Regions from separate parts of the Homo sapiens genome. Here region 1 is linked to region 2. Evidence: fine-mapped expression QTL. A gene starts in region 2. The other region holds a variant in brackets. All regions are shown on one strand. Distances are between the middles of the regions.

What was found. PIP is the estimated chance that this variant, and not a neighbour inherited with it, causes the effect. A credible set is the group of variants that fine-mapping cannot tell apart.
Region 1: its variant is the best candidate, but not a certain one, in a credible set for the expression of GASAL1 in lung (GTEx, PIP 0.82).

Annotation. Positions count from the first base shown.
Region 1 is chr8:102,824,710-102,829,096 of GRCh38, reverse strand. AZIN1 (antizyme inhibitor 1) reads left to right here. Exons shown (of 12, transcript NM_148174.4): 12 at 419-2,789. The coding sequence ends at 530. Among named protein-coding and RNA genes, the nearest start is that of GASAL1, 20 kb to the right of the region's middle. The variant T/A (reference allele first, on the strand shown) is at 2,161.
Region 2 is chr8:102,804,502-102,808,888 of GRCh38, reverse strand. GASAL1 (growth arrest associated lncRNA 1) reads right to left here and starts at 1,859. Exons shown (of 2, transcript NR_149020.2): 1 at 336-1,859. RefSeq lists an enhancer at 21-647 and a silencer at 1,633-2,432.

The DNA.
Region 1 (4,387 bases), 20 kb before region 2:
TATGATGGCATAACCTACTACATAATCTAGGCCATGTGGTATATTGATCCTAGGCTACAAACCTGTACAGCATGTTACTCTGTTTAATACTGTTGGCAGTTGTAATGCAGTGGCGTTTGTGTATCTTAAGTTACTTAAACATAGAAAGGATAATACATTGTGCTATGACATGATTGCTGCGATGTAACGAGGTGATAGGACTTTTTAAACTTCACTGTAATTTTACGGTATACCACAGTCATATGTGTAGTCTTTGACCAAAACATCACTCTGCAGTGCATGACTATCATAGAAAAATGATGATCTTTTAAAGGTTTTTGGAAGACTAGTTATAATCCTGTTTTATTATCCATTTGTTATGTGATTACGTGGTCTTTGGGCTTAAACTGAGAATTTAGCTGATTTTTTTTCTACGTAGGTATGAGATGCAAGATGCTGGAATTACTTCAGACTCAATGATGAAGAACTTCTTCTTTGTGCCTTCTTGCATTCAGCTGAGCCAAGAAGACAGCTTTTCCGCTGAAGCTTAAACAGGCATTAACGCTTCTTTAGATCTGAAGTTGCAGGTTAAGCTTGTCTGGTCAACATTCCAGTGTGGAAAAATAATTTAAACAATCTTATTCTCTTAATTCTTTTGGCAACAAAAACTATTAGTAATAGCTATTTGGGACCAGACAAAATCAGCTTTCATCTATAATTCATTGGGGATAATGGGAGATTTAGATAATGTATCCAGATTTAAACCTACCAGTTTGTCCTACCCCTTAAGCGTTTAAAATAAAATATGCAACAAAATGGATGACTTAGTGGAGATGGAAGCCCATTAATTGGGTTCCCCATTAAATCGTTTACATACAAGAACACAGTTTTTATACTAAGGATTTGTGTTTAAAGTCTTGTAAAGTTCATGTCTTTCACCCAGATATATCAAATGTTAGAAGACCAGTGTGACTTCATTAGATAACGTTTAGTGTATTTAGAATGTGTAAATTTGTGCTTTGAACTGTAGTTTAATAAATGTAAAATTGCATCATAGTATTTGTTGACCTAATGTAACCCTTGTATGATTGCAATAAAATTTTGTGTAGATTTTACTGTTTTTTCAGGCTAAAACTTTGGGAAAGGGGCTAGCTAGCAAAGGTAGTTTTGAAATAGATGTGTATATGGACTGTTTTGAAGGGTTTTTTTCTTTATAGCCCAGTTAAGTTTTGTTTGGCTCGGTGCATTTTTCATTTATTTAATTAGTAATTTAAGTAAAGTGTTTGGTAAATCATTGTGAAGTTCAGATTCATTATGGAGAGTTGATGTGCAGTAAGCATGATGTTTAACAATTTTAACACCAAAAATGTTAATCCTGCATAAATCAACTGTAATAATAAATAGGTGTTTCTGTATAGATAGAATGCATAGAGTACCTTAGTAAATCTTTGAATCACAATCTTTTGGCTGAAATGGAAGATTCTGTTAAATACTTTGAATAAACTTGGGGGGAGGGAAATAAAATTGCAGAAAACTGCAGAGCACTAAAACTTAAAGAAGGGCTACATCTTTATCCAGAAACCTGTTGCTCTTTTGCACGGAATGTTTAAATTCAGAGTTGGGATGGGGGTTGGGGTGAAGCACACTTATTATCTTCAGTTGCAGTGATTTCAAATTTAGGATTTTTTGTTGTTGGTTTGAACTGTCCCCTTAGTTTCTTGTTATTTCCAATTTGTTCTGCTTAGTCATTACTTTTAATTCTTTTCTTACTAAAATTTTATGGTGGTTGGGGGAAGGGAGTTAGCATCACTAACCTGACAGTTGTTGCCAGGAATTTGCTTTGTTTACTGCTAGTATATTAGAAATCCTAGATCTCAGAATCACAATAGTAATAAACAACAGGGGTCATTTTTTCCTAACTTACTCTGTGTTCAGGTGTGGAATTTCTGTCTCCCAAGAGGAAATGTGACTTCACTTTGGTGCCAATGGACAGAAAATTCTACCTGTGCTACATAGGAGAAGTTTGGAATGCACTTAATAGCTGGTTTTTACACCTTGATTTCGAGGTGGAAAGAAATTGATCATGAATCTCTAATAAATTTAAATCTCTTAAACCAGTAGGTGCTTAATATTTTTTGATTTGATTAATGCCCATTTAAATCTCATGGGTTCTATTAAAAA[T/A]ATATATATATAGGGCCCCAATCCATTGCCATCAAATTGCCCTTGGACTTTTCCAAGGTATATTATGGGGTTTTATGCAAAATTCCAAGCTACCATGTAACTTTTTTTAACCATTTAACAAGGAGGGGGAACTGTTTCCTACCTTCTTTACATGTTGTGCATTGTTGTGGTCCAGAAATGCCAAACCTTTTTAAAGATGGTGCAACTTTGAGTCCTTGGCTTGACTATACAGGCCTTGAACTTCATGGCATATCAACTTTGCCATATCTGCAGGAGAGCTGTTCTATAAGAAATAGCTCAGAGTTGCAAATATCACATGTGAATGATACGGTAACTTTTAAGAAATGTCTGTATTGTATTTGAAGACTGTTTGCCATAAATCTGAAATTTGAACCTATGTATTTCAATTTGGTATGCTAAAAAGTTCTGAATTAATGTAAAGTTTTTTGTTATAATATTGTAATCTCAGTTCAAAAGTTAACTGCAAATATAAAACCCAATGATTTCTATATAGTAAATTGAACTGTAAAGGTAACTTGTGTGTGATTCTGAATACATAGATAAATGTTTTTATTCCTCATGTTTTACTTTGGCTTCTATCTGAAATAGAGGTAAAATTTTACATATCAGCTTTATGTGTATTAACAATCTTGCTTTATTAGAAAGAAAATTGATTCTGCTAAAAAATGCTGGAAGTTATATATAGAACAGTGAAATTTTGGTAAAGTCCAGTATATATGTGAGCACTGTTTCCAGGACAGCCTTTTCTAGACACTTCAGTTCACTAGCCTCCTAACAATTTAAAACCCGGACTAAATGAATAGATTGACAAATTAAGCTAGATTTATTCCAAGTAAATATGGGCATTAATACCATTAAATGGAAATACTGGGTTAGAGAAGCCACACATTGCTTAATTCCTTTTTTCTTCTTTTTAGAGTATATATTTTAGTTTCCTAACCTGTCTTGGCCTTAAGAAGTCTTCTGAACTCTGCTGAAATGAAAAGCATCATCTCTTTGTTCTTTGAACACTTTAGTTAACTGGGTGACTTAATATTTTGGGGAGTAACTTTAAATTCAAAGATTTACTTAATTATTCAGGCAATGCACTAGTATAGGGTGGTGGTTAAAGGTGTAGACCTTGCCTCCAGTCTGCTTGACTCAAATCCTGCCTCTGCCATTTACTGTCTGTATGAACATAGGCTAGTCACCTAACCCTTTTGTGCTTCGGTTTTCCCAGATGGAAAATCGTGGTAAGGCCAGGCACAGTGGTTTATGCTCGTAAATGCCAGCACTTTGGAAGGTTGAGGTGAGAGGATTGCTTGAGCTCAGGAGTTCAAGACTAGCCTGGGCAATGTAGGGAGACCTGTGTCTCTCCAAAAAAATTCAAAATTAGCTGGTAGTCCCAGCTACTCAAAAGGCCAAGGTGGGAGGATTGCTTGGGCCCAAGAGGTGGAGGCTGCAGTGAGCCGCGATCACACCACTGCACTCCAGCCTGGGCAACAAAGTAAGACCCTATCTCTAATAAGAAAAGAAAGAAAATGATGGTAGTAAAAGTAGCAGCTTCATAAGGTTATAAGGATGTAACAGTTACAAGGTGCTTAGAACTGGCTGGCACACAGGGCTCAATAAACGACCCTTATTACCTATTAGATTGATTATACTGATTTGGACAAGTTGCTCTGGGCCTTGGTTTCTTGTCTGTAGGATGAAGACACTAGAACTTAACCTTACCAGGCCTTGAAAGTGCCTGGCACATGGATGCAAATGGCAGATACTGCCAGTGGTTGATAGCTTGGTATTAAGATCTCTTTAGCATGTACTTGACCATTCTCTTTTGTCCTTGTAAGTTGGACTTTTGGTTGGGCATCAGAGAAGGTTTTGTATTGCTGCCTTTTAGTTGATTTAATTTTAATGTAACCTTATAGTATTAAAGCACAGGCCAGGCACAGTGGCTCACGCCTGTAATCCCAACAATTCAGGAGGCTGAGGCAGGCAGATCACCTGAAGTCAGGAGTTTGAGACCAGCCTGGCCAACATGGTGAAATGCCATCTCTACTAAAAATACAAAAATTAGCCAGGCATGGTGGCGCACACCTGTGCCAGCTACTCGAGGCTGAGGCAGGAGAATTGCTTGAACCTGAGAGGCAGAAGTTGCAGTGAGTGGAGATTGCACCACCGCACTCCAGCCTGGGTGACAGAGCAAGACTCCATCTCAAAAAAAGAA
Region 2 (4,387 bases):
AGTCACTGAAAATTCTCCCCATGCTGAGCACTGCTAGGGGATTTATCTCAAGACTCCCAACAAGAACCTTTGGGGCCAGGAATCATCACCTCTATTTTCCCAGAAAGCAGAGGACCTGTTCCCCAGATCCCCCATCTGGCCATGGCTGGGCCTCCTCCACCTCTGAGGCCCAGCGTTGCAGAGGATGGTGACACATCCGCCTTGGGGCCCCCTGCAGGGATGTGGGGTTGATGAGAACTGGCTGCAGTGCCTCGTTCTCCCACCAGTGAGGTTTGTGGTGGTTATCACTAGCTTCAAAGGTCAGCTGGCTCTTGGGAAACAAATAGAAGCCTCACCCTCCCTTCCCGTTGGAAACTTTGGCCTCAGCTGCAGAGTGGATGCCTGGGAGAGGCTGCAACATCCAGCCTCAGGGAGTCCAGCTGCCCCTGGAGGTCTGCCAAGGCTGTTCTCAGGGTTTGTCCCAGTTGGGTCTGAAGGCCAGGAGGCTGCACTCTTCTGTGGCGGTCTGACCTGGACACTCCCTGGTGACCATCTCCATCAGTGGTTCTCCTCTCTAACTGCTCATTAAAAGTCTGCTGATGCCTGGGCCCCACCCCAGACCAATAAAATCAGATTTCCTGGAGGAGGGCCATGCATCAACATTTTTCTTTTTTAAAGCACCCCTAGATAATTTCAGAGTGCCGTCAGGATTGAGGGATGCTGATGTAGATAAACATAAACGTTAGTGATCAAAGGACAGAATAGGAAAAATATTTGAAATCTGGATGAAAGAGGATCTGCATTAGACAGCAGCCATCCAAGGCCAGGAGGCTTGGCGGCTAGGATTGAGCAGGACTGTGGAATTCTTGGAAGGAATTCATCTGTCTGGGAACTGGCATGACTCGGTTCCCCAGGGGCAGCGGGCGGAACCCCGTGACTCCAGGTCCTCGGTCCTCCTGGGCCACTGTGCCTGCCTCTGTGGTCTGCATCTGGGCCGTGATGCGCCTCTGAGCCTCAGGTCTTCCAGTCAAACTGGACTCCCTGCCATTCCGAGAACGCAGTCTGCTCTTTCCTGCTTCTCGGTTTGGGTTTCAGGCATTTGTTTCTGTCTGGAATGTCTTTTCCGATCTGTTCAAATCATTCCTTTTCAAGGTCCCTGCCCTACTGCCAGCTCCACCAGGAAGCCCTCGCCACACCTTCTGCATGTGCCTGTACTCCACAGCGCCCTCCTGCGGCACTGCCCAAGGTGTGCCCAGACTATAAATGCAGAGGGTGAGGACCAGTCAAATCCCCTCCTCCACCTGTCCCGGGGGCGGAAGGCACGTGCACAGAGGAGCCTCCCACCTCTTTTGAATGCCATGGACTGTGTCCGTGTTCCAAGACAGGGTGGAAGCCTCTTCTCTGCCCACACCCCTTCCTGATAGTTCTCCAGCCCCCCTGCCGCATTTCCTGAGTGCCACGGCGCCTTGTGGTTAGCAGTCAGTGACAGGGAAGCGCTGGGACCAGGCCTTTTTACCCAGCACGTGGTGTCTACAGTGCCAGTGGAGCCTCCCCCGGAGAGGGTCGGCATAGAGTGGGGTGGGGAATGAAAGCTCTTCCCACAGACAGACCCAGAGTCTTAAGGGGAAGGGGAAGACCCCAGCGACCTCCGGTGTCACCGAGGCCCGTGCTGGTGCTCAGGAACCGCCTTCTCCCAATAACGCAGCGCGAGCGACACGGGGCGGGGGCGCCTCGGGCGCGCTGGCTGGGGGCCCGCGGGGCGCCGCTCCGCAGTGGAAGGGGGCAGACTTCGGAAGCGGCCGCCGGCTGCTGGGGGTGGGAGACTTGCTCCCTCCTTCAGTCGCCCGCCGTCAGCCCGCGCTGCAGGTGACCTGGTCAGTGCCGATCGCCCCGCCCCCGCCCAGCCGTCTCCGTGGGGTTTTCCGGCTCTGCGCGCCTCAAACGACCTCGGCTGCCGCCTGCCCGGCAGCTCCCCGCGGTCCCCCACGTTCCCCCGCCCCCCGGGCCGCGCGGCAGGCCTTTCTGATGAGTCAGCGGGAGCCCGGGAGCCTCCAACCGCCCCGGGCATCTGCTCCGGTGACGCACCCTGAGTCACGGGCGCCCGGGCCGCCGCCGAGGCCGAGCGCGCAGCCGGGAGCGCCGAGCGCAGCCCCTACGCCTGCCGCGGGCGCCCACCCAGCCCGGCCCGGCCCCGCACCCTTCCTCCCTCGCTCCCAGCGCCGCCCGCCCTGCACTCCCTGGCCCAGCTCCAGGCTGACATCAGACGCTGGCCGCCCGGCCACCCTCTGAGTCAACAGTTTCCGAAGCAGAGCCCGCTGCCAGGGGCGGGGAGAGAGCGCGGCCTCCGGGGGAGGCGGGGGCGGGCACCGGTCTGGCAGCCGCGGGAGGGCGGAGGTGGGTGGGGACGCCGGAGCCTTTTACAAGAAGTCACGGGGGATGGGGGAGAAGAGAGGGCGAAAACCACCCTCTGCAGAGCTGCCGGGGCGGAGAGGAAACCCGCCGCCCCACACAGCCACGTGCTGAAGCCCTCACTGAGTGGGTGGCTGGGAAGGGAACCCGAGGGCGGGAGGAGGGGGAGGCACTTGCTGGGAAAGGCCCTGGGCCAAGTTTCTGAGGGAGGAAAAGAACCACCTTTGGACACCCTGGGTCCCAGGGGCCCAGCAGATATTTGTGTCTGGATAACAGGGCCCCACCCAGTTCCCTTTGATGGGAGCAGCTCTGGCCGAGCCCTACTCTTGGGGACTGGTGCTGCCTGCTTGGGGTCCGACTTGAAGAACTGCACTGACCTAACCTGACCCCCTCCCTTGACCACAGACCCTGTCACCATCGTGGGATGATGGGGTTGGAAGGATGTATGTCTGAGGGTAAAGGAATTCAAGAGCCCCAGTCCATTGAGAGTCACCTTCCTCGCTGTAACAAGGCTGGGCACTATGGTCTGCCCCTGAGTTGGTGCTGGGTAACCACTCTGAGAGGCTGCATCTGTGGTTCTAGAATGCTCAAAGTGAGCAAGAGACCCTTAAAAAAAGCATCTACCTGCAGGGGGACTAAGTGGCTTCTAGAAGCTTCTTTAACCCCGCAGATTTCCCTGATCACGTCAGGCAGGAAGGAAGGGTGACGTGGAGCCAGGAGGACAGAGTAAGGCAGTAAGCATCCACAGGTGCTTGGATTTCCTTCCCTCCACCCCATCGCACCCCGCCCACCCATGCCATGCCCCCCAGGATAGCAAGACAGGGCTGTCATTGGTGGGCCTCCGGCTGGAATTCACGCTCAGCTTCTTTCCGGGATTTGAACTTGTTGTTCTTTCCAAAGCCATGGTTCAATAAATGATGCCAACCTGGGAAGGGGAGGTGTCTTTCTCATCTTGCAGGCAGAAGCGGCATAACAGCTGGGTGAACAGAACCGGTCTGGATCTGTCCAGAGCTATTTGTCAGCACAGCTTTGCAGAAACTATGTGAGCGTCTCCTTGCTCCATATGACCCCCATTCAAACTCATGCTGAGAAAGAGCTCCCAGTCCACCTCTGCTGGGGCAGTCTTTTCCCAAGTGTGACTTTTCCAAGGGTGGGTGGTTCATTTCTGCCAATCTAACCCAGCTCAAAATAGCATTGAATCAGACTTCTGGGAAGCCCTGTGCTCCAGGCGCCTGTAGAAAAGAGTTAAAAATGACATCTCTTGGGAAACCAGGGGGTCTAATTTTGCTGAGGTGGGACAAGATGCAGAGCCCTGTGACATCAGAGGGAAGAAATAGTGGCCAGGGATAGGTCTGGAAAGTGTGAGTGGTGGAAGGTCCTGTGCTTTATGTGGTTGCCCTTTGGGAAGTCCGTGGCCTGGCCCAGTGGGGGGCAGGTATCCTGGGAGCTAAGGCCAGGTGTAGGAGGGGGCTGTGGCTTAAGCCACAAACTCCACAACCTCCAACTTCCACATTTTCCTTCAGGCTGAGAACCCGAACTGTCTCAGTAGGGGTTGACTCCTCCACCGTTTCTAATTCTGATTACTTACGCTTTTGGCTTGGGCCCAGCTGGATTGCCACCTTTATGAAGCTTTTCTCATGAGTTAACTTGACCCTTGGCACTTCCACTACAGCCTTTACCATGCTTTGCCTGCTTTGAGAGGCTTTGCTTTATTCGGCTTTCCTCTCCACCCAGCAGCCCACTGGGAGGCAAGCACTCCATCCTTGCCACTCGTTAGTGGAACTCCCAGGGAAACAAATGAGCTGTCGGCTCTTCTGTCTTCTGCCCCCACGTTTGGTCTCATAGGCTTCCTTTGTGTCTGATGGGGCTTCCTGTGTGCTGTCTCTGCTTCCAAGACAGCCTCATCTTGGGTTTTGACCCTATCTGCGTTTTTTTTTTTTTTTAAGGAAAACAATTTTTCTTAGTTCAAATAGAAATTAGCTTAGATTTTAGATTTGAT